7 linked regions of the Homo sapiens genome follow. The protein of the gene in region 4 purifies or fractionates together with the protein of the main gene of each other region. This does not show direct contact. Each region holds a gene or a part of one and is shown on either strand. Other genes may lie near its edges.

Region 1 (3,500 bases), on a different chromosome or scaffold from region 4:
GCATAGTATAAGCATAACTTTTAAATTTGTGTGACTGGAAGTGCCTGTATTAAACACTGGACATTTGGCTAGGGACACCTGAGAGTGTGCCCAGAGGAGAGTATTCTAAATGAAGATGCAGTTAGAAGTTGTGTCATATGAAGAACAGTGGAAGAAAATGGGGCGTTTCTTAATTCAAGTATTTATTGTTTAGTAGTAGTTTTGGATTTGTTACAAGCACATTGTGGGTTTATTTGAGTTGTTTTTGAGGCACAGAATTATATTAAAATATTCAGTGTGCTCTTGTAAACTGTGCACATCTCCAGTCACATTTCTCCTACTTCAGAGATTTATATATCAAGTAGAAATCACTGGTCTAAGGAAGGACCTGCAAATATTTGAAAGACTGTGATCCATAGGCACTCGTAAAAGAGGAGCCTCATTCCACGAGGCTCTGGAATACAGAATGAGGATGATGGATGTAATTAGAGGGAAGAGCTGGATGTCTCTCCTTGTTGCCATGTAGGGAACAGTGGTTTCCATTCAGGAATGAGACAGGCTGTTAATTAAGGTAATGGGTTTTCCTTTTTTTTTTTAAAGACAGGGTCTCAGGCTGGAGTGCAGTGGTATGAGTATGGCTCAGTGCAGCCTCAACCCCTGGGCTCAAATGATCCTCCTGCCTCAGCCTCCTGAGTAGCTGAGACCACAGGCACACAGCACCATGCCATCTTTTTTTGTAGAGATGGGGTCTCACTGTGTTGCCCAACGCTAGTCTCAAAATTCCTAGGCTCAAGCAGTTCTCCCACCTCAGCCTCTCAAAATGCTGGGATTACAGGTGTGAGTCACCGTGCCTGGCTGGTAATGGGTTTTCTGTCAAAATTGTTCAAGTGCAACAAGGTGACTTTCAGAAAGCTGGAGGGTAGATTTTCCAACTTTTGTTTTTAGTGAAGGAACCCTTTTTCAGGTAAAACTGTGCAGAAGGCCTAATTGCCAGTCACACAGAAATAGAGCTGCTCTGGTTTATTTGGGATTGGTAGAGATGCTGAGCCCTGCTACTCCAGGTTTGCACTGTATAGTGGAAAAGTCTGTTAGACTTAGATGACTTGTGAGGGCCCTTCTGACTCTAAAATTGTATAATTCTAGGAGGAGATTGGGCATAGGAATTAAGATTTACTTCTCTAACCTAGTTCAGTAGCTTTTAACAAAATAGCTTTCTGCATTTATTCTTTCCTTTAGTTACTTAAGATGGCCCAGGGCCATAGGGTAGAGACTGAGCATTATGAAGAAATTGAAGACTATGATTACAACAACCCTAACGACACCTCCAACTTTTGCCCTGGATTACAGGTAAAGGGGGGAAAGGGGCTCTGTCCTCTCTTCTAAGCCAGGGAGTCGTTTTTCTCTGCTTCTCATGTCCCCATTTTATATGGTGGGAGACTGTTGGCAATTTTGAATCCAGTGGAGGTTTTCTGGGTAAAGGGTCTGCCTTCCACCCAGTGCAGGGAGCTGAGCAGAGTCAAGGAAACAGCCTCACCTTGGCCTGCCTTACCTCACATCCTACATGCAGGAAGCAAATGGCCACACTCAAGTGAATGCGTCGACATGTGGATGGGTGTTTAGCCTCTGCTACAAAGTACTAATCTTGGCTGTTGTGGGATTTCAAAGGAATATAAACACTTTGTCCTCTTATGAGCTAATATTTTGGCCAGGTAGACAACCAGATCACACCATATGTGATCTGGTGTGGCAAAAAATAAGTCTTCGGGGTGTATCTCAGATGACCAGATTTCTAGCTGTGAATGCAGTTCTCATATTGCAAGCTTGCTGTGAACTTGTACAAGCCACCCCCCATCTTTAGATCACGGTTTAGACTAAATAATTTCCATATCCCTTCTCTGAGTCTACTGATGAGATGGCTAATACAGGTAACAGAAACTGGAAAAATAGGCTTCATCTGTGTCCCTGTATGTGGAAAGGGGGGAACGAACTGGAAAAAAATGTATTCACCTTATTTTCTTACTTAGGAAGAGAGTTAGGCTGTTATATTTTAGTGAAAATCCAGACTGACCTCTTGACTAGTGCTTCTCAAACTTTAACTTACATACAAATCACCCAGGGAGCCTATTTAAGGACTGATTCCTGACCTGTGTCCCCCCACCCCACCCCCTGCCCGAAGATACTGATACATTCACTCTGGATGTGATCGCAAAAATGACTTTCTCACCTGCTTCTGGGTGGTATGCCTGCTACTGACCAGATGGCCCCAGGAATCTCCTGTGCTTTCCTTGGGTGATATGTTCAGGTCATATCTCCGGTATTTGAGGAATGTTTCTGTAAAATGAAATCCTAAATTTGTTAGAAGCTGAAGGGGGGACATAGTGGCAATTATGGTTATCGAATTCCTTTTAACTCCCGCTCAAAAGGTCTTAGGTTGATAACAGACACCTCTCTAATAGGGTTTACGTGAAACAGGATGATAACTAGAGGCACCTAGAAGTTCATCGTAGTGTAACTCACTGAGTGAACCATCAGATGGTCTCTTCTTGCTTTGTAAACATGGAGTCTATTTCAAGGGTGTTTCTGAGCTCCTCTGCAGCGTCCACCAAACTCGAAGAGCTGTTTCTTGCCCAGGCTGCTGACAGTGATGATGAAGATTTGGATGACTTATTTGTGGGACCTGTTGGGAACTCTGACCTCTCACCTTATCCTTGCCATCCACCTAAGACAGCACAACAGAATGGTGACACTCCAGAAGCCCAAGGATTAGACATCACAACATATGGGGAGTCAAACTTGGTAGCTGAGCCTCAGAAGGTACGGATGAAACAGCTGAGAATTACATTGTTTGCCTGAAATCTATTTAATTGTCTCTTATATGAGAGTCACGCAATCTGAGCTTGATTTCTTTTCTTCTCAGTTTTAACCTGTTGCTCTCCAAGTTTTAAATAGGGTTGTGGGAGTGAGCTGATGCTAATTAGGTTTGTGTGGAACTGACCATCTCTCCAAAGACCTTGATAAGACATGTAACTAGGGAGGAACTGGTCACCCAAATAAGGCATATGAATGAAGGCTGCAGGCAGAGAATATAAATTTATATGCTAATTCAGCAAGGCTAGCTAGCTAGCTGTGTGGCTCTGAAAAATCTTGGCCAAATTCAGTTTGTATTAAATTATCATGTATTAAACATTTATCTCTTCCATACCAGGTGGCAGGCTTTATGCTTGCCTTTATATTTGATTCATTTATCTCTTTTACACTGGAATTCCAGTTAGCCTTAATGTAGATTGCACTGGATTGAAAAGAAATTAGATTTGATATGAGGGACTCTATATAGTGTCCAAAGAGAGCTCTGGGCTGGGCGTGGTGGCTCACGCCTGTAATCCCAGCACTTTGGGAGGCCAAGGCGGGCAGATCACGATGTCAGGAGTTCGAGACCAGCCCGGCCAACATGGTGAAACCCCGTCTTTAATAAAAATACAAAAATTAGCTGGGCATGGTGGCAGGTGCCTGTAATCCCAGCT
Region 2 (3,500 bases), on a different chromosome or scaffold from region 4:
ATCACTGCAGAATGGGCTTAATGGAAGACAAATTTTTAAAGGAAAAATAGTGACTGATTTGTAAAAAAATTAGATGACCGAAATTTTAAGCACATATTACTGATAGAGTGTTGATACCACTGGCAAAATGAAAAGGCAAGGAAGGATGATGGCTTCCATGTTGGACATGTTGAGTTTGTGGTAACGGCAAGAAAACCTGTTAGAAATCTCCAGACTTAGAACTATGGACCCACGTGGAACTCAAAAGGTCAGTTTCGATATGTCACTTGAATAAAATAGTTTTGAAGGCATGAGAGTAGAAAAGTAGAGAATGGAAAGCCTCTCAAGACCCTGCTGTACATTTTGAACCTCCTCTTTTCTTTTTCTCTTCCTAAGTATTACTTTTGTCTACTTCAGGTTCGCAATATCATCTTCAGAAAAGCAGACCAAAGATCAAGGAATTGTTCATTTTTGGCTTGAGCCCTTTTTCTTTTCTCTTTAGCTCTGTGAGTTTGTGCAGAAGGATGAGTTGAAACCAGCAGTGACCCAGCTGCTGTGGGAGCGGGCCACCGAGAAGGTCGCCTGCTGTCCTCTGGAGCGCTGTTCCTCTGTCATGCTTCTTGGCATGATGGCACGGTGAGGCTCAAATCTAGCAGGCAATGGGGTGGGAGAGCAAAGGAAGGTTCTGAGAGGGCTCCTTTTCCTTCAGTGACATTGTCACAGTGAGGCCCAACTGAGCTCTGCTGTGAGTTATAACGCCACCTAAATGGAAAAGCAAATAGTGAGAGGACCAGCCCTCCTGCCTAGTAGTAGTGGGATTCAGTAAAGCAACAGGACCCAAGAGGCTGGCCCTGCGGCAGAGCCACGCTATAGTGCTCCACGGCTCTAGACACCACATGAGGTGCTGGTACCTACCCCTATTGGCCCTTTCTCCCCCGATGAGTCCAATCCATGACTGCCTTTAACTCTGTGGCTTCCTTCCCCTAGAGGAAAGCCAGAAATTGTGGGAAGCAATTTAGACACACTGGTGAGCATAGGGCTGGATGAGAAGTTTCCACAGGACTACAGGCTGGCCCAGCAGGTGTGCCATGCCATTGCCAACATCTCGGACAGGAGAAAGGTATGTGGGGGTGGTTCCAAACTAAGGAGAGTGGAGATTCTCGTGTCCACCCTGTACACACACCCACGTTGTCTTGCTCTCCACAGCCTTCTCTGGGCAAACGTCACCCCCCCTTCCGGCTGCCTCAGGAACACAGGTTGTTTGAGCGACTGCGGGAGACAGTCACAAAAGGTGAGCTCTCAGGGAAGGCCTTGGGCAGAATTGGGCCCTTTGTTGCAGTAAACAACTTCTCCCTCCTCCTCTGCAGGCTTTGTCCACCCAGACCCACTCTGGATCCCATTCAAAGAGGTGGCAGTGACCCTCATTTACCAACTGGCAGAGGGCCCCGAAGTGATCTGTGCCCAGATATTGCAGGGCTGTGCAAAACAGGCCCTGGAGAAGCTAGAAGAGAAGAGAACCAGTCAGGAGGACCCGAGTAAGTGGGCAGGGGTTGACCCACTGCGGCAGCCAGCTTCTGTTCTCCCTGCAGGGCCAGGAGCCACTGCCACCACCACTATCTGCAACAACCCTTAGTGTACACTGTGTCGTTTTTGTCTAAGTTGAAGTTGGGCCAGTTCCCACCCCCAACTCTTACTACTTCACTAGTTTGAATAGCACGTGAGCAAGGGGAAGATCAGTAAAAATCGGATTCAGGTTTGATGGGACTTAAAAATGTCTCTTTGCCCCACCTTCCCTCTCCCTCTCCTCCAGAGGAGTCCCCCGCAATGCTCCCCACTTTCCTGTTGATGAACCTGCTGTCCCTGGCTGGGGATGTGGCTCTGCAGCAGCTGGTCCACTTGGAGCAGGCAGTGAGTGGAGAGCTCTGCCGGCGCCGAGTTCTCCGGGAAGAACAGGAGCACAAGACCAAAGATCCCAAGGAGAAGGTGTGTGAATGTCCTCAGCACTTCCCAGATTTATTTCATACCTCAGCTCAGAACTGAGCTGATCCCCTTCCGGCAATCTCTGCTCCTCTGCTATTACATGAAGCGAAGAGTTTCTGCCTCTCTGTGGCTACTACCGTAGGAAAGGTTCGTGTGAACAATGACGAAACTGTCAGTGATCACCCAGGAAGGAAAGATTTAGGTAAATGCAGAGTGTGGAGTTAGAGACCTCAGCATAAAACAGAGGCTTTGTGTCTGAGGCAGGGTTTGTTAGAACACGCACGTACCCGCCGGCCTTTTCCATCAGCTTCCATTGCTGGCCTGGCCCCGGATGGGGCCCTGTGTTCCCTCCACTAGAGGCAATGATGTCTTGCAGACAAATAAGACACAGAGCCTTGCAGCGCTGGAGAAAAGTCTGACCTCTGTGACTTTGAACCATTGTCTGGCGTGATCCATCTGTTTACCATATATAGGAAACGATGTCTTCCATGAGGAAGAGGTGCAGAAACACGCTTTGGCAACTTAAAACAAATGGGGACCTCATTGTTCCCCTGCTTAATTCAGGAATCCTTTCTCTTTACAGACACATTTGACAATTCTCTAAATGTTTTTGTAGAATTTGCCCTTCCTCACTTTGTTCATGCAAAACAAAGTATGGGCTGGAATCAAAAATGTTGTCTCTGCTTATCCATGATCCCCAATTTCATTCCCTTTAGAATACGAGCTCTGAGACCACCATGGAGGAGGAGCTGGGGCTGGTTGGGGCAACAGCAGATGACACAGAGGCAGAACTAATCCGTGGCATCTGCGAGATGGAACTGTTGGATGGTAAGAAAAATGGCTGCACTCAGCAGTTTCTTCCCAATTAAGATAACCTGTCCCAAACCTGCAGTTACTCTTCCAACAGGCAAACAGACACTGGCTGCCTTTGTTCCACTCTTGCTTAAAGTCTGTAACAACCCAGGCCTCTATAGCAACCCAGACCTCTCTGCAGCTGCTTCACTTGCCCTTGGCAAGTTCTGCATGATCAGGTAGGCCGTGGGGTTGGTACCCCCTTCTCAAGGAAGATGGGGATGAAATGGCTTCCCTAATGATCCTCTTCTTGCTCTTAGTGCCACTTTCTGCGACTCCCAGCTTCGTCTTCTGTTCACCATGCTGGAAAAGTCTCCACTTCCCATTGTCCGGTCTAACCTCATGGTTGCCACTGGGGATCTGGCCATCCGCTTTCCCAATCTGGTGGACCCCTGGACTCCTCATCTGTATGCTCGGTAAGAGACCCCTCACAACGTGGTGGCAGTTCCCAGGAGCCCCGGAGTCTGTTGAGAGTCAGTGTGAGAATCACCAGGGCTCTTCCCCTAGGCTTTGGCATCACCGCGAACATCTGCTTGATACTTGACCTGTACAGGCCCCTGGCTAAGAGTCACCCCAGTGGGACTGACACTTCTGGTTAGAAGCTTCACCTCTTTCCCCCACTCCAGCTTTCAACTCTAGACAGCTTTCTGACTGCTTCTGGAGTGGCAGAGCATGGGATAATTGATTCC
Region 3 (3,500 bases), on a different chromosome or scaffold from region 4:
CATTGGCCTTGAAGTAATAGATGGCTTCATCCACAATATCTGTATCTTTTGCTAAGCAGGACACAAGGGAAGGAGCACAGAGAACATTAGCCAAATACAAAACATAACAACTATCAAAGCCATAAAGGGAAAACACATACAACTGTCAACAGTTGTGGAGTTGAATAAAATAAAATGATCCTATTGAAATACAAAGTTTTTAGAAAATATTTATTTGTTTTTTTTTTGAGACAGAGTCTCGCTCTGTCACCCAGGCTGGAGTGCAGTGGCGTGATCTTGGCTCACTGCAAGCTCTGCCTCCCGGGTTCACGCCATTCTCCTGCCTCAGCCTCCTGAGTAGCTGGGGCTACAGGCACCTGCCACCACACCCCGCTAATTTTTTGTATTTTTAGTAGAGATGGGGTTTCACCATGTTAGCCAGGATGGTCTTGATCTCCTGACCGCGTGATCCGCCCATCTCGGCCTCCCAAAGTGCTGGGATTACAGGCATGAGCCACCGTGCCCAGCCTTTGTTTTTTTTTTTGAGACAGAGTTTCACTCTGTCGCCCAGGCTGGAGTGCAGTGGCGCGATCTTGGCTCACTGCAAGCTCCGCCTCCCGGGTTCACGGCATTCTCCTGCCTCAGCCTCCCAAGTAGCTGGGGCTATAGGCACCTGCCACCATGCTCAGCTATATTTTTTGTATTTTTAGTAAAGACGGGGTTTCACCGTGTTAGCCAGGATGGTCTTGATCTCCTGACCTCGTGATCCGCCCATCTCGGCCTCCCAACGTGCTGGGATCACAGGCATAAGCCACCGTGCCCGGCCAAATTTTTTTTTTTTGAGACGGAGTCTTGCTCCGTCGCCCAGACTGGAGTGAAATGGCATGATCTCGGCTCACTCTGCCTCCCGGGTTCAAGCGATTCTCCTGCCTCAGCCTCCCAAGTAGCTGGGATTATACGCATGTACCACCAGGCCTGGCTAATTTTTGTATTTTTAGTAGAAATGGGGTTTCACCTTGTTGGTCAGGCTGGTCTCGAACTCCTGACCTCGTGATCTGCCTGCCTCAGCCTCCCAAAGTGCTGGGATTACAGGAGTGAGCCACCACCCCCGGATTTTCAGAAAATATTTATAGAAAAGTAGTACATGGTTTATTTTTACAGCTTTATTGTTTTCGTAAAACTTATACATGCTCATTAGAAAATGAAATTCAATCAAAACAGTTTTATTTTTTAGAGAGAGGTCTTGCTCTGTTACCCGGGCTGGAGTGCAGTGGTACAATTATAACTCACCACAGACTTGAATTCCTGAGCGCAAGTGATCCTCCTGCTTCAGCTTCCCAGGTAGCCGGGACTACAGGCATGCACCATGAGGCCTGGCTAATTTTTTTCTTTAAAAATTAAATAAAATTTTTAAAGAAAAGTTTTTAAAGATGGCTGGGCACAGTGACTCACGCCTGTAATCCCAACACTTTGGGAGGCCGAGACGGGTGGATCACCTGAGGTCAGGAGTTTGAGAGCAGCCTGGCCAACATGGTGAAACTGCGCCTCTACTAAAAATACAAAAAATTAGCCAAGCATGGTGGCAGGCACCTGTAATCCCAGCTATTCGGGAGGCTAAGGCAGGAGAATCGCTTGAACTCGCGGGTGGAGGATGCAGTGAGCCAAGATTGCACCATTGCACTCCAGCCTGGGCAACGAGATCAAAACTCTGTCTCCAAAAAAAAAAAAAAAGTTTTTTTTAGAGATGCAGTCTCACTATGTTGCCTAGGCTGGTCTCAAACTCCTGGCCTCAAGTGATCCTCCTGCCTCCTGAGTAGCTAGGATTACAGGCATAAGCCACAGCACCAGGCAAAAAAAAAATTTTTAATTGTCACCTTAATTCCCATTTCCCCAAAAATAACTACCATTAGCATTTGGTGAACATTATTCAAGACGTCTCTCAATGCATTTATAAAAAAACACTGAGACATAGACTAACTTTAACTGCTTCCTAAAAATAAAAAGTATTCAGTCGGGCGCAGTGGCTCACGCCTGTAGTCCCAGCACTTTGGGAGGCTGAGGCGGATGGATTGCCTGAGGTCAGGAGTTCGAGACCAGCCTGGCCAACATGGAGAAACCCTGTCTCTACTAAAAATACAAAAACTAGCCGGGCATGGTGGTACGTGCCTGTAATCCCAGCTACTCAGGGGGCTGAGGCAGGAGAATTGCTTGAACCCAGGAGGCAGAGGTTGCAGTGAGCTGAGATCATTCCACCAAACTCAAGCCTGGGTGACAGAGCGAGACTCCATCTCAAAAAAGTAATAATAAAAAATATATATAATTAAATAAAATAAAAAGTATTCAATATAATTTTATTTGAATTTACATATTATAGTTTCAGAAAAAAACTCAATTATTTAGAACATGTTGAGGTTCAGATACACATCTTTCTTTTTATGAAAACTATGACTTAAAATATACTTGTACAAGCTGTTGTAGGTAGCTCTAGACGGACAAAAGCCAGAAATACTGTCTTGACAAAGACAGATCTCATGACACAATTTGTTTGGCAATTTTTTGTTTTTCTTCTTCTTATTTTAAAAAGGTCAAAATCCCAGGGTCTTGATATCTGGCAGTTGGTTTCAGCAGTGCTGAGACAGTTACTTATACTTCTTGTCTATGACTGTTAACGTTCTCGCACAGCAGAAATGCAAAGTAATCTTGAAGCTTTCATACTCTGCAATTCAGTTGTCTTCATCCCAGCTCATTGCCCTGTGGAAGAATTTCAACAGAACTCTAACTCTAGACTTGTGTTCCTTGCAATTTACTTTTTTTTTTTTTGAGATGGAGTCTCGCTCTGTTGCCCAGGCTGGAGTGCAGTGGTGCAATCTTGGCTCACTGCAAGCTCTGCCTCCTGGGTTCACGCCATTCTCCTGCCTCAGCCTCCCGAGTACCTGGGACTACAGGAGCCCGCCACCACGCTTGGCTAATTTTTTGTATTTTTAGTAGAGATGGGGTTTCACCGTGTTAGCCAGGATGGTCTCGATCTCCTGACCTCGTGATCCACCCGTCTTGGCCTCCCAAAGTGCTAAAGTACTGGGATTACAGGCGTGAGCCACCGCGCCACGCCCTATTTTTTATTTATTTATTTTTTCGAGATCAAGTCTCACTTTGTCGCCCAGGCTGGAGTGCCATGGCACAATCTAGGCCCAGTGCAACCTCCGCCTCCTGAGTTCAAGTGATTCTCCTGTCTCAGCCTCCCATGTAGCTGGGACTACAGGTGCCTGCCACCACAGCTAGCTAATTTTGGTATTTTTGGTAGAGACAGAGTTTCACCATGTTGGCCAGGCTGGTCTCAAACTCCTGACCTGAGGCAATCTGCCCGCCTCAGCCTCCCAAAGTGCTGGGATTACAGGCGTGAGCCACTATGCCTGGCTGCAATCTGTTTTCTTATCTGTGAAAGAAAACTGTCTTGGAGGACTCAATATTGTTTCCAAAAACCAGCTAGTTCTTCTAAATGCAATGACAGGAGGGGGCAAAGG
Region 4 (3,500 bases):
TCAAAAAAAAGAAAGAAAAAAAGAAAGATTGTCCCTTCCATTATAAAATGTAGTCTTTCAGAAGATTTCCCTACATAAACAGGCACTTATATATCTTTTCATTTTTAACAGAAATAAGATTATTTTATACATTTTTATATACATTTGGTAATTTGCCTTTTAATACTTGATAATACTTTTGTATTTTGATGCCAGTGTTACTTGATTTTTATATGGTTTATTGTGACACAGTAAGTTCTTAGCATACACTTATTACAAGTCCCTGTCTACCCTCGTACTGACTTCTTTCCCTTTTCCAGTCCTGCAAGTCAGATTACATGCTCCACCTTTCCACTCCTCCAACATAAATATCTCATGTAGTAAAAGTCAGGTATACCGCACTAAGGGCTTAAGATGACACATTAGTTCTTCAATTCAATGCCAACTTTATGAAGGGTGTCCTGAGACATATACAGTTAGCTTTTTTTTATTTTTTAATTTAGAGAGACACTCTCTGTCGCCCAGGCTGGAACTCCTGAGCTCAAGTTCTCCTCCCACCTCAGCCTCTCAAGCAGCTGGAGCCACAGACGTGCACCACCACTCTAGGCTAATTTTTTTTTTTTTTTAATTTTTCGTAGAGACTGGGTCTCACTATGTTGTCCAGGCTGATCTCAAACTCCTGCCTCCAGCAATCCTTCCACCTCAGCCCCTCAAAGTGCTGAGATTACAGGTGTGAGCCACCATGCCCAGCCACAGTCAGCTTTTGAATGCATCGTTTCTTGCATGAAGTGAGGTGCTCCTAACTCATCAGCCAGTGTGTCTGCCTGCCATATCTGTGTAATCTCTTTGCCACATTCAAGAGCAAATAACTACATGCACACACATGTCCCTGCAGGCACACATACACACACATGGCCCATTCGAGTGTGAGCTCCTGGCTAAGACCGTTTGGTTCATCTTGGTAGCTCTAGCTCCTAACACAGTGCCTGGCCGTCAGCACAGATCTGTGTGGTCACAGCCCTCTCGGAGCTCCGGTGAGCACAGGCAAGGAGAAGGTCCTAGCACAGGTGTCTGCTGCCAAGTCATAGTAACAGGAAGAGCTCTAGGAGCTAAGAGCAGGGAGAAGCCACTTTAGGCGGAAGTGGCCCGGGAAAGTGGACCGTGGGATCATGGGGGTGATCCCTTTAGAGCTGTGCTGGGGGTGGAAGGGCGTGATGCAAAGACTGGGCTTTGGGAACCAGTTTGTCGTCAGTGGGCAGGGCCTCAGAAGGAGGCAGAGCCGGAACCCAGGGCTGCCCCTGTCTTGAGAGGCCTGCAAGTTGAGGTCAGGGGCTCCTTTTCAACATAAGTGCCCATTGATACTGCAGAAGCCCCTGTGAGAATGGGTCCTTTGTGATCATCTGTGTCTGTAAAGAAGCTAATAGTCTGTTGCATCTTGGGATAACACATGTTCTTGTGTTCAGGGTCTCGACTCTGAAGACAGAGTTCCTGCCGCTCCTAAGTGTGTCATTTGTCTCAGAGAACAGCGTCGTGGCTGCTGTGAGTATTTTTCTTCATTCTCCCTCGGGGTGCACTGTATGTGATGCTCAGACAGGGAACAATGTGTGCTCTGTCACCCTAGCACAAAGCAGAACAGTTTTTTAGAAGAAACAGAGCTCACTTTTTTTTTTTTTTTTTTTTTTGAGATGGAGTTTTGCTCTTGTTGCCCAGGCTGGAGTGCAATGGGTGATCTTGACTCACCGCAACCTCTGCCTCCCGGGTTCAAGCGATTCTCCCGCCTCAGCCTCTCGAGGAACTGGGAATATAGGCATGCGCCACCATACCTGGCTAATTTTGTATTTTTAGAAGAGACGGGGTTTCTCCATGTTGGTCAGGCCGGTCTCGAACTCCCATCCTCAGGTGATCCACCCACCTTGGCCTCCCAAAGTGCGGGCATGAGCCACCGTGCCCGGCCTCAGAGGTCACTTTTTTTTTGGAGACTGTCTTGCTCTGTCGCCCAGGCTGGAGGGCAGTGGCGCAATTTTGGCTCACTGCAAGCTCCGCCTCCCGGGTTCACGCCATTCTCCTGCCTCAGCGTCCTGAGTAGCTGGGACTACAGGCGCCCGCCACCTCGCCGGGCTAATTTTTTTTATTTTTAGTAGAGATGGGGTTTCACCATGTTAGCCAGGATGGTCTCAATCTCCTGACCTCGTGATCCGCCCACCTTGGCCTCCTAAAGTGCTGGGATTACAGGTGTGAGCCACCGTGCCCGGCCGCTCACTTTTAAGAGTAAGAGGGGGTGGGGCACGATGGCTCACGCCTGTAGTCCCAGCACTTTGGGAGGCCAAGGCGGGTGGTTCACTTGAGGTCAGGAGTTCAAGACCAGCCTGGCCAACATGGTGAAACCCCGTCTCTACTAAAAACACAAAAATTAGCCAGGCATGGTGGCAGACGCCTGTAATCCCAGCTACTTGGGAGGCTGAGGCAGGAGAATTACTTGAACCCGGGAAGCAGAGGTTGTGGTGACCTGAGATTGTGCCACTGCACTCTAGCCAGGGCAACAGAGCAAGACTCGGTCTCAAAAAAAAAAAAAAAAAAGAGTAAGAGAGGCCTGTCGTGGTGAACACTCTGCCAAGGAGGTGGGCGGTGGGCAGTGCATCCTCCAGGGACTGACTGAGTCTTGTTTCAGGGCCATGACTGCTGCCCAATGCTCTTTAACTACGATGACCGCGGCTGCCTGACCTTCGTCTCCAAGTTAGATATTCCAAAACAGAGCATCCAACGCAACATGTCTGCCATGGAACGCTTCCGCAACATGGACAAGAGAGCCACAACTGAGGACCGCAACACGGCCTTGGAGACGCTGCACCAGAATAGCATCACGTAGGTGCCGTCTGTAGAGAGGTGGTCAGGTGACAAGGTGCCTTCCTGCCCCTCGCTGTTTCCTTACTGGGTTCCTACAAAAGCTCTATGCCCCTCAGGCCCAGACATTCTTTCAGGGACAAGTGCAGCAAGAAGTCTGTATCTTCCCGACCGCCAGGCTCTCATTTCCAGCTCGTGGTAGGGAGGGAGTCGCCACCACCTGGTCATTCTGTCCTTCAAGGTGCAGATTACAAGGCAGCAGCCAGCAGGAGCAGTGCAGACCTTGTTGCAATCTGAGGTGGTGGGGCCTCAGGGCAGCTGCTTCCTAGGGTACCCTTTCTCAGCTACTCGAGAACAAAAGGAGACATTCCTGAATGCTGCGTTCCCACAGTAGTGCACACATAACAGAAAGCGAAGTTACAGCCTGTTGGAAAAGGTAACTGTAGCTGTCGTTTCAAGTAATGGATACAAATAAGAAGATTATTTAATTAAAGGAACAGAATTTCTTATCATCATGATGACAAAGCTGAGGAGTGTCTCGACTGGGTTTTCATCAGGTATATGTAATTATGTAAGACAACAGAATTGTGTTTTGTCCAGAAAGTTTAATTTTTTTTTTTTTTTTTGAGACAGAGTCTCACTCTGTTGCCCAGGCTGGAGTGCAATGCCACAATCTCGGC
Region 5 (2,562 bases), on a different chromosome or scaffold from region 4:
GTTCTGTTTTGTGTGACCAGCACAGTGTTTTAAAACGTTGCATTCTGAATCCATCTTTTTGAAATGGGGCATGTACTCTTAAGGTGGCCACTAGCTTACCATTCCCAATTTTTCTTAGTCTCAAACATTCACATGTTTTTCAAGGCCTTGGAGTTGGCAAATCCTGAATATATAGTGAAGGTAGGAAATAGCTCTTCTTATGCCACATCTTAGTCTGATTTTGAAGTCAGTTGTGTAAGTTTGGGCTGACAGTGGTATTTTCCAGTGAAGACTATCGCCAAGAATGCATATCATTCTGCTTATTTTATTCTAGTGGATAAAAATTCAACGTATATTTAAGTGTATTTTTGACATCTGTGCTTGTCCAACACAGGGCTGTAGGGACTGATGAAAAGAGAATGTTGTGATTTGAGCTTTTATAAAAAAAGATAAGTGATCCTAGATAAAATATTTTAGATGGTGATTAAAATGCCCATAGATTAATTTTTTAATCGGTTCTCTGAAATCTTGAGATGTTATCCAAGTTACAATTTAAGCAATGAGAGTAAAATTTGAATTCTAAATTCTCAGCATCTTCCCTCATTCTTGAGTGGAGAGACAGAGGAAGCAAACGCCAAGGAGCCTTCTAATTTTGACTATATGATCATTAACTAAAGGCAGCAAGGGATTGTAAACTAATCTTACATAGTCAATGTTTCATAGAATGCTTTGGTTACAATCAGGTTTTTTAAAGACTTTAAAGGTTTTTTGTATGCTATAATATATGCTTATGATTTCTAAAAATTATGCAGTATACACAAAGGGCATAAAGTCAAAAAGTGTGTCTCCCTCTGTGACTTTATTCTCATACCCCAGAGGCATATAATTTCTTGTATTCTTGTGTAGTCTTTAAGAAATGTTATCGTTTATTTTATATATGGCTCTCTCTCTGTATGCCTCTTCCTGTTCTTATTTTAAATGTTCAAGTTTGTGACTTGGTTCTTGTTTAACTTGGTTGTCTTTCCATATTGCCACCTTCCAGCTCTAACATTAATGTCTCCAGGATTCCATTATATGGATGTCCCTTTGGGAGAACATTTGTTTATAGACTTTTCTACTAAAAATATTGTTATAATGATAATATCCTTATGCATATATGAAGATTACTCTTGATTCTGCCTGACTGGAAACTTTATTAATAAAGTAGACATTATTCTATTTTGAGGCTCACCAGCTGTGTAGGTATGATCTTGTGCTTCCATTTAAGAAATTCTTCCATTTAAAGAAGAAAAAAAATCTCTCTGACTATCTGAAGATATATGAAAAAGCCTATGCTTTTAAATTAAACTGTTAAGACAGTCCATTGAAAGATTGTGGAAGTTCACATCTATTTTGCACCTTAATTTTTTCATTGTCCCTACTCATGACTCTAAAAAGTGCATGGCTTGGGGCTATACTTTGTTTTGCAGTTTGTTGGTATCGTGCCTTTCCTTATCTACATTAGCTTAGACTATACCTTATTTTTAAGAAGAGAAAGTGGAAATTAACTGTGGCAAAACCTATTTTGGCACAACCACATTTGTTCATTATACAAAATTAGCTTCCTATGCTTTAGAAAAAATGTGAGTTATTACTCTGAAAGTTGTGATTCTGATTCCTCATGGTTTGGAGCTCAGAAATTTCTTAACATGTCTTTGCTGTTAGTCAAGCACAGGATTTGTTTTCTGCAAAAGTTTATTTTCAATGAAGAATACTTGTCCTAATAGCTCATAAAAAGTACCTTTGCACTTTAAATCCTAGGAATAGGGAACAAGGAAACTTACTGGGAAGTTCAAAAGAAAGAATAACAGGACCTTCTAGTCAGCAGGGCATGTTTGGAAAATGTTAATACGCCATGATTTTTGAAGACCAATTTTAGTTCAGGAGGTGGTTTTAAATATTGGATGAAAACTTACAGGCTGTTTTCAATATTCATTTCTGAAATACTTTAGTATGATAGATAAATTTGGTTAAGTTCTTGTTCATTGTGAAATACTGTTGGAAGAATTTTTTTCAAAATAAAGACTTCTGAATTTGTGTACCATTTGGGAATAGCCTCTTTCATTTAAATGAGTGTCAAATCTGGAAAATTGGAAGAATATTTGTTCCTTTCATCACTCACATTATGCATTTCTGTAAAGCAGCTCATGCATTTACTTCCAGCTTAACGTGTTTTCCATTAATTAATAAGTTTTGCCATTTTTTTCTGTATTTTTCAATTAAAAAGTCTTCATTTTTAAAAAGCAGGATCTATTTGTTACTTAATTTGCAATATTTTTTTTTCAAAGATGGATTTTTTTTTTTCTGGAGTACACATTGATGGAAGTTGGTTTTAAGAAAGCATTGTAATGGGAATTTACCTACCTTACTACTGTTGAAGTTTAGAAGGTAAATGCTGAACTGTGTTTGTCACATCCCTAATCTTATTTCTCTGTAGTGGTCACTGACTATTATTTGTTATGAGTCCATCTTGATTATTCTGTACATCTTGTTTAAATTATTTTCACTAACCATCACCAGAACACAGAAGAAAATTTTGTTTCC
Region 6 (3,500 bases), on a different chromosome or scaffold from region 4:
ATTCTCCTACCTCAGCCTCCCGAGTAGCTGGGACTACAGGCATCTGCCACCACGCCTGGCTAATTTTTGTATTTTTAATAGAGATGGGGTTTCACCATGTTGTCCAGTCTGGTCTTGAACTCCTGACCTCAAATGATCTGCCAGCCTCGGCCTCCCAAAGTGCTGGGATTACAGGCATGAGCCACCGCACCCAGCCATTATGTGTATTTTACCACAATTTTTAAAATGGGAAAAAGAAAAAAGCAAAAGGTCGAGAATATTCTTTAAAGACGAGCTCAAATTGGGGACTTACCCTATAAAAAATCAAGACAGTATAAAGATTTAGTAGCTAATACCACGTTGTATGGTACAAAGATAGTCACACAGACCACGGGAACAGAATAAAACCCAGAAACAGACAACCCAGATATCTATGAAGAATAGAATGTCTATCATATATTGGAATGTCTTGCCACGTGAAAATGAGTGGACTATAGCCACATGCATCAACATAGATGAGTCTTGGCCGGGCGCGGTGGCTCATGCCTGTAATCCCAGCACTTTGGGAGGCCGAGGCGGGTGGATCACAAGGTCAGGAGATCGAGACCATCCTGGCTAACATGGTGAAACCCCGTCTCTACTAAAAAATAGAAAAAATTAGCTGAGCGTGGTGGCGGGCGCCTGTAGTCCCAGCTACTCGGGAGGCTGAGGCAGGAGAATGGCATGAACCCGGGAGGCGGAGCTTGCAGTGAGCCAAGATCGTGCCACTGCACTCCAGCCTGGACGACAGAGCGAGACTCTGTCTCAAAAAAAAAAAAAACAAGACCAAAAAACATAGATGAGTCTCTGGCCCGTAACTCTGAGTAAGAAGTAGTCACAGAATGATACATATAGAATGATTTCAGAAAGTTTTAAAACAGGCAAAATGAAACAATATACTGTTCAGGAATACATACACAAGCAGTAATTCATAAAGAAAAGCCATGGGCCAGGCACAGTGGCTCATGCCTATAATCCCAGCACTCTGGGAGGCTGACGCAAGAGGATCACTTGAGCCCAAGAGTTTGAGCAAGCTTGGCCAACACAGTGAGACCCCGTCTCTACAAAAAAATAAAATTAGCCAGTGTGGTAGTACACACACCTGTGATCCCAGCTACTTGAGAGGCTGAAGTGGGAGGATTGCTTGAGCCCAGAAGTTCAAGGCTGCAGTGAGCCATGATTGCACCACTGCACTCCAGCCCGGGTGACGGAGCGAGACCCCGTCTCGATAAAAAAGAAAAGCCATGGAATTATTAACACATGATAGTAGTTATTTATAGGGGTCCCACGTTTGTAGTGCTCTATTTCTTAACTTGGGTTATATAAACTCAAATGTTTATTTGGCAGTATTCTTTAGACTGCGTTTGAACATGTGTCTGTATTTTAAAGAAATGATTTATGATATAGTTACACAAAATACTGTACCTGTCTAGTCACAAAGACTGGTTTGGGCACTTTACTTGTTCCAGAACTGGAGCAGGATTAAACTGGTCGAGGTCAATCTTTTCTATTTGCCTTGCATTTAGTGGGGTTAGATTTCAGATAACACATTTCTATAACTTTACATATATTTTATTAACTTTTTTCTCTCTTTTGGGTCTTTCTAATAGCTTCTTGGAAGAAATTTTATTTTGTTTATCATCTTTGGCACCATGGAAGAAATGCAGAACAAAGCTGTGGTTTTCTTTGTGTTTTATTTGTGGAGTGCAATTGAAATTTTCAGGTGGGTAGAAATGCCAGGATGGTGTTTGAATGCTGCTCCCTGTTTGCAGCAGCTCTGTTCTTGAGGGAGTTGTTATCTTAGCCAGAGTCTCATTTGGTTTGGGACTAAGATTACATATGTGGAGAATTCTGGTTGCACCTATGTGCTCTGCAAAGTTGAGACAGATTTTTTTAAAGCCGTCATTGGATCATAATACCAGACTGGATACTAGGGAGCAGAAGAGGAGAACCAGAGAAAGGGAAGACTCATCTTACCATGACTTCAGGATCTTGCAGTCTTGGAAAGAGAGGACCCATCCACATGGAAAAATTCTTGAAAGGGCTGAAGAAACAGGAGGTTGAAGGAGCAATCCAGGTTGGATAGAACTAATTTAAGACTAAATTTCTACAAGGGATGATAGAAATGAATCTTATACCACAAGATTATTGAAGTTTGAAATGGCCTCTAACCCAATTTTCCCGTTCTCGGTTGTTAGTAGCATAAATATCTTTTAAGAAATGGATCTAGTTAAAGTAGATGTATTCTTCTTTACCAGACCATACACACTCCATATGTCTTCCCTTTCAGTCAGCTGGAGCAAGGATTTTGCAAATGAACTTCTCAGCTCCAGGTTTGGTGGTATTTTGACAAAGTTGCTAGTTGAGAGAGAGAACAGGCCATAGCAGCCTTAAATTGTGTCTTAACCATGGTCTGTGTCCCATGGCACCCAGTGTACCCTCTAATAGCCTTAATACAAAGGTAAAACAGATTATAGGTCCTATGTTTTTCAAATCAGACACGTAATGTGCTGATGTAACAAGGTTTGAGGGAAGCACATCTCACACAGGAGAGTGAAAATCCAGTTATCACACTTATGAGCTATAAAAGGATCAGATTATGGGTCCTTAATGCAATGTTTACTGTTTGAGAAGGAACATTTATTTTCTCAAGGGATGTCTTTTAAAATAGCATATGTCTGATTCTAGATTAGAGGTCTTCTGTATACTTTAATTTTGGTAACAACTCACTTATCCAGAAATAAAGTATCTAATATCCTTACCCACCGGGAATGTATATCAGCACTAGGAATAAAGCCAAAAAACATCTGAGTATCCAGTCCGTTTACCGAATAAAGAGGGTTCCTTTGAGACCTAAACTTAGTCTGCCATTAAAGAGCGTTCAGATCCTTTGAAAATTTAGGGCGCAGTGTGGCAGGAGTTTATGGGTTGATAGCCAGCGTTATAATTCTGTTCTGAAGAAGCCATGTGTGGCTGAGAAATAGAATTCTTCTATTTAAATGATATTCTAAGGTTGCATTCGGAACCTGAAGTGGCTTTTCACATTGGAATCATTTATTTTCAATAGGTACTCTTTCTACATGCTGACGTGCATTGACATGGATTGGAAGGTGCTCACATGGCTTCGTTACACTCTGTGGATTCCCTTATATCCACTGGGATGTTTGGCGGAAGGTACTCTCAGGGACTCTTAGCTTTCATAGCTTAGCTCCAGGGGGTACCCAGAGGCTGAGAGACCAGTCCTTTCTTCCCCGGCCTTAGTCCGATAAATGGAAATGTTGGATTTTTCAGGGATTTCTTTCCATGGGCTTCCTTCCATAATACTCCTGGTACCCAGACTGTTCGAGAAAAGTAGCTCATTTTGTAACATTGGAAAGCCAGGTGGTTATGTCCTGCATGCTTCCCATTTGTATGATGCTTTTAGTATTCCAAAGGGGGTTCTTACTGATGACTTTATTTTATTCTGACAAACATCTCATACA
Region 7 (3,500 bases), on a different chromosome or scaffold from region 4:
CTTGCACTCTCAGAAGATCCACCAAGACGGAATGGCGTTGGTCCCAGTTCTGTCTGCATAAGCCCCTTTATTTCCTTGTTCCACACCCATTGATATTCTTTGTGGGGGGGGGCTGGGATTTCAGGAGTCTCCTCTTTGTTTTCCCTTGGGCCCCTGTGGGAAGGGAGTGGTCCCTGTGCTCACCCCTCAGGGCAGGCTGGGGTTGGATCCAGCTGGTAGCGAAGACAGCCCGTCAGGGAGCTGTCCAGGGCTAGGGCCATCACAAGGGTGGACCTGCTCTAACTCAGGAGGCCTGCGTGGTGTCTTCTGCCACCAGGACGGCCAGACCGGCCCCGGGACCTGGAGCTGACCGACCTGGCCGAGAGGAGCGTGCGGCTGACCTGGATCCCCGGGGATGCTAACAACAGCCCCATCACAGGTAGCTCAGGGCCTTGCACCCCAAAGCTGGAAAAGAGGGACGGCAACACCCTTAAACCGAAGGCCTTTCCTGGTTTCCAGCCCCACTTCTGCCTCGCTTGATGTGTGTCCTGGGCTAACCTCAGAATGTACAGAGGCCTTGGTGTCTCTTCCTGTGCCTTGGGAAGAATTCTCCTTGTGCCTTTGTGTGAGAGAGATTATAAAGATCAATGGAAGCCAAGAAGGAAGTGCTTTTAAAGAAGACCACTGCTAACTGAGCTCCCGAAACAGCTCTGTTTTCCTTGCCCACTCAGACTACGTCGTCCAGTTTGAAGAAGACCAGTTCCAACCTGGGGTCTGGCATGACCATTCCAAGTACCCCGGCAGCGTTAACTCAGCCGTCCTCCGGCTGTCCCCGTATGTCAACTACCAGTTCCGTGTCATTGCCATCAACGAGGTTGGGAGCAGCCACCCCAGCCTCCCATCCGAGCGCTACCGAACCAGTGGAGCACGTGAGTACCCGAGGGCTGCCAGAGAAGGCTCCGGAACCCCGCACCCCAAACTCACACTGAGATCCCCCCATTCCCAGCCATGTGAACTTAGGTTACTTAACTTCTCCAAGGCCCGGCCTCATCTGTGAGGCAGAGAGTAATAATAACACCTACATCACAGAGCTGTTGTGAACATTTGAGAATGTGTGCCAGGTACTTACTATGATGCCTGGCATGTAGTGAGCACATGATAAATGCTAACTTCCATTTTTATTATTAGTAATTCTTGATTATCTGCTTTAAAGGGGAGAGCTGTGGCAAAGAGGTACAGCAGAAATACATAATTCAGTGTGAGAAATATATAAATTGGTATTACATCAGATTTCTTTTCCTAACACTCTTGGGTAATATTTGGATTTCTGAAATCACACCAGCTCATAGAGGGTAGAGATGCTGCCCAAAAAAAATGTTAAATGCCAGGGATAAGCCAGTCTGGTATGAAACACATTTAGTGGATAATCCACAAAGGAGCTAATCCACATTGAGTTGGCTTACTGACCACCCACAGTGTGGAAAGCCTTATGATAAATGCTGTCTGGTAAAGGATTAAAATTCAGAAGAAATTAGCCCTGCTCTGGGAGTTTAAATCTCAGCTCAAAAGGCACATCATGCACAGAGTAAGCTCATTTACATACCAGACCAAGCGTATACATAGATGCCGAGGAAAGACAGAGCATAGAACAGACCCATCAGGTAGGACAGAGGAAGGTTCCTTACCTTGCCCTGGAAAGGCACAAATTGGACTTGAGCCTGTGTCTGTTTGGGTTCCAGCCCCCGAGTCCAATCCTGGTGACGTGAAGGGAGAGGGGACCAGAAAGAACAACATGGAGATCACGTGGACGGTAAGAGGCCCTCCCAGCCCCAGTGGAGCAGCTCACCTTGCCGCATGCACCGGGAGCCCCTCTCCCTTGATGCCCCGACACTACGAGGCCATGATGTGGTTCAGACTCTCTGGCTGGTCTTGGTGGCCATTCTTCTTTGAGAAACCAAGCTCCTCTCTGAGTTGGGCATCCAGAAACCAAACAGGACAAATGTCTAAGTGTAAGATTTCAGAGAGGAGACAGGAGCAGAGGGGACCAGGGTCCACCGACTGCCAGTCTAGCAAAACGCATAGAGGATGCAGCAAAATCAAGCAGACTTCTCTTGAAGGAGGAGGGACTGGGGTTAGACTTTAGAAAAGATCTAAGCACAACACCAAACCAAGTTCTGGTGTGTCCTAGGGCCCTTTCACTGGAGATTTGTGGGAGCTGGGGAGAGACCAACATCTGAGATGTGTCCAGTACAGGCTTTCTTTTGGTCCAAGAATGGACTAGGTCATTCCAAAGACTCCCTCTGGTCTTAGAAAATCCCATCTTCATGCTGGCTCACTGACTACATTTTCCAAACCAAAACTGGAGTATGTGGTCTCAAAATGACTTTTTTCCCAAACCACTTCCCAGTCTGAGAATGCAAACGCAGCCACTGAAATATTAACATTTCTGAGCTTCTGCCATGAGTAATGGAAACTGGGAGATGCAGTGTTTGGGATCATGACCTTCCCTGTCTTTCTGAAGGCTGCTCCCACAGCAGCCTTGGCCAAACAGGGCAACGGCAGCTGGGCTGAGCCCAGATTCAGGACCCTGGTCTGTGGCTCTGTATAGCAGGCTCCAAGAGGACTGATTCCTGGGCCAGGCCCTTAGAAAATAAAGAGCAGAATCACACCCATGTTTAAAGAACTCTGACCTCTTGGGAAGGACAGGACAGACACACACAAATTCGGTAGAACTAAAGTCCATTCTGGAATTTTGAGTTCATTAGCAGGAGCCATGCTGTGGTTAACCACAACTCATTTCTTCTGACTTTGGAGAAGTTTACCTTTTGTCTATATTTTGCTTTATTGGTTGCTCCTGTCACAGGAAGGAGTTTTGTTGAAAATAAAACCTTTGCACCTACAAATGCGGGTGGCTCTCAGAGTCAGAGTAACTGGGTCTCAGGCGAAGCCTGTGTCACAGAAAATCTGCATGCTGCTGGGTTCACAGGACCTTGGGCTTTTGGGGGACTCACTGGGGTGGGGGATATGGTCTTCCCTACCCTGCAAGGGGGCAGGCCAGTGTTGGGCACATCTGGAAGGGATGCCTGGCACAGCAAGAGAGGGCAAGCTGTGGGTGGATCTGGGCCCCTCTCTGGCAGCCTCTCCAGCCTGTCTGTCCCTCTGCCCAGCCCATGAATGCCACCTCGGCCTTTGGCCCCAACCTGCGCTACATTGTCAAGTGGAGGCGGAGAGAGACTCGAGAGGCCTGGAACAACGTCACAGTGTGGGGCTCTCGCTACGTGGTGGGGCAGACCCCAGTCTACGTGCCCTATGAGATCCGAGTCCAGGCTGAAAATGACTTCGGGAAGGGCCCTGAGCCAGAGTCCGTCATCGGTTACTCCGGAGAAGATTGTGAGTAGTCTCCTCCCCGTCCCCCCATCAGGACCCTTGTGGCTAGGTCGCACGAGGCCACGCTCACAGGCCAGGAACCTTGGGGTGGGTATGGGAGGACAGCCAGTTCCCAGGAAGGAAAAATGTTCTGT

The links.
Region 1: the proteins of ARPC1A (region 4) and NCAPH purify together in Homo sapiens (affinity purification with mass spectrometry; 3 studies listed by BioGRID and IntAct, with this or other methods). This does not show direct contact.
Region 2: the proteins of ARPC1A (region 4) and NCAPD2 purify together in Homo sapiens (affinity purification with mass spectrometry; 3 studies listed by BioGRID and IntAct, with this or other methods). This does not show direct contact.
Region 3: the proteins of ARPC1A (region 4) and ARPC3 purify together in Homo sapiens (affinity purification with mass spectrometry; 10 studies listed by BioGRID and IntAct, with this or other methods). This does not show direct contact.
Region 5: the proteins of ARPC1A (region 4) and AGFG1 fractionate together in Homo sapiens (co-fractionation; one large-scale study listed by BioGRID). This does not show direct contact.
Region 6: the proteins of ARPC1A (region 4) and HACD3 purify together in Homo sapiens (co-immunoprecipitation; one large-scale study listed by IntAct). This does not show direct contact.
Region 7: the proteins of ARPC1A (region 4) and NFASC fractionate together in Homo sapiens (co-fractionation; one large-scale study listed by BioGRID). This does not show direct contact.

What each region holds. Positions count from the first base shown.
Region 1 is NC_000002.12:96,363,266-96,366,765, forward strand, and holds part of NCAPH (condensin complex subunit 2), read left to right. Parts: intron 1-1,215; coding exon 1,216-1,326; intron 1,327-2,610; coding exon 2,611-2,793; intron 2,794-3,500. UniProt on the Homo sapiens protein: Regulatory subunit of the condensin complex, a complex required for conversion of interphase chromatin into mitotic-like condense chromosomes.
Region 2 is NC_000012.12:6,525,102-6,528,601, forward strand, and holds part of NCAPD2 (condensin complex subunit 1), read left to right. Parts: intron 1-481; coding exon 482-615; intron 616-966; coding exon 967-1,099; intron 1,100-1,185; coding exon 1,186-1,270; intron 1,271-1,346; coding exon 1,347-1,514; intron 1,515-1,789; coding exon 1,790-1,962; intron 1,963-2,675; coding exon 2,676-2,787; intron 2,788-2,866; coding exon 2,867-2,990; intron 2,991-3,071; coding exon 3,072-3,227; intron 3,228-3,500. UniProt on the Homo sapiens protein: Regulatory subunit of the condensin complex, a complex required for conversion of interphase chromatin into mitotic-like condense chromosomes.
Region 3 is NC_000012.12:110,440,338-110,443,837, forward strand, and holds part of ARPC3 (actin-related protein 2/3 complex subunit 3), read right to left. Parts: intron 52-3,500; coding exon 1-51. UniProt on the Homo sapiens protein: Component of the Arp2/3 complex, a multiprotein complex that mediates actin polymerization upon stimulation by nucleation-promoting factor (NPF).
Region 4 is NC_000007.14:99,356,898-99,360,397, forward strand, and holds part of ARPC1A (actin-related protein 2/3 complex subunit 1A), read left to right. Parts: intron 1-1,442; coding exon 1,443-1,518; intron 1,519-2,647; coding exon 2,648-2,841; intron 2,842-3,500. UniProt on the Homo sapiens protein: Probably functions as a component of the Arp2/3 complex which is involved in regulation of actin polymerization and together with an activating nucleation-promoting factor (NPF) mediates the formation of branched actin networks.
Region 5 is NC_000002.12:227,559,156-227,561,717, forward strand, and holds the end of AGFG1 (arf-GAP domain and FG repeat-containing protein 1), read left to right. Parts: 3' UTR 1-2,062; downstream 2,063-2,562. UniProt on the Homo sapiens protein: Required for vesicle docking or fusion during acrosome biogenesis. May play a role in RNA trafficking or localization.
Region 6 is NC_000015.10:65,568,463-65,571,962, forward strand, and holds part of HACD3 (very-long-chain (3R)-3-hydroxyacyl-CoA dehydratase 3), read left to right. Parts: intron 1-1,628; coding exon 1,629-1,741; intron 1,742-2,510; exon of another isoform or gene 2,511-2,611; intron 2,612-3,085; coding exon 3,086-3,192; intron 3,193-3,500. UniProt on the Homo sapiens protein: Catalyzes the third of the four reactions of the long-chain fatty acids elongation cycle. This endoplasmic reticulum-bound enzymatic process, allows the addition of two carbons to the chain of long- and very long-chain fatty acids/VLCFAs per cycle.
Region 7 is NC_000001.11:204,978,652-204,982,151, forward strand, and holds part of NFASC (neurofascin isoform 1 precursor), read left to right. Parts: intron 1-316; coding exon 317-418; intron 419-710; coding exon 711-908; intron 909-1,718; coding exon 1,719-1,789; intron 1,790-3,146; coding exon 3,147-3,369; intron 3,370-3,500. UniProt on the Homo sapiens protein: Cell adhesion, ankyrin-binding protein which may be involved in neurite extension, axonal guidance, synaptogenesis, myelination and neuron-glial cell interactions.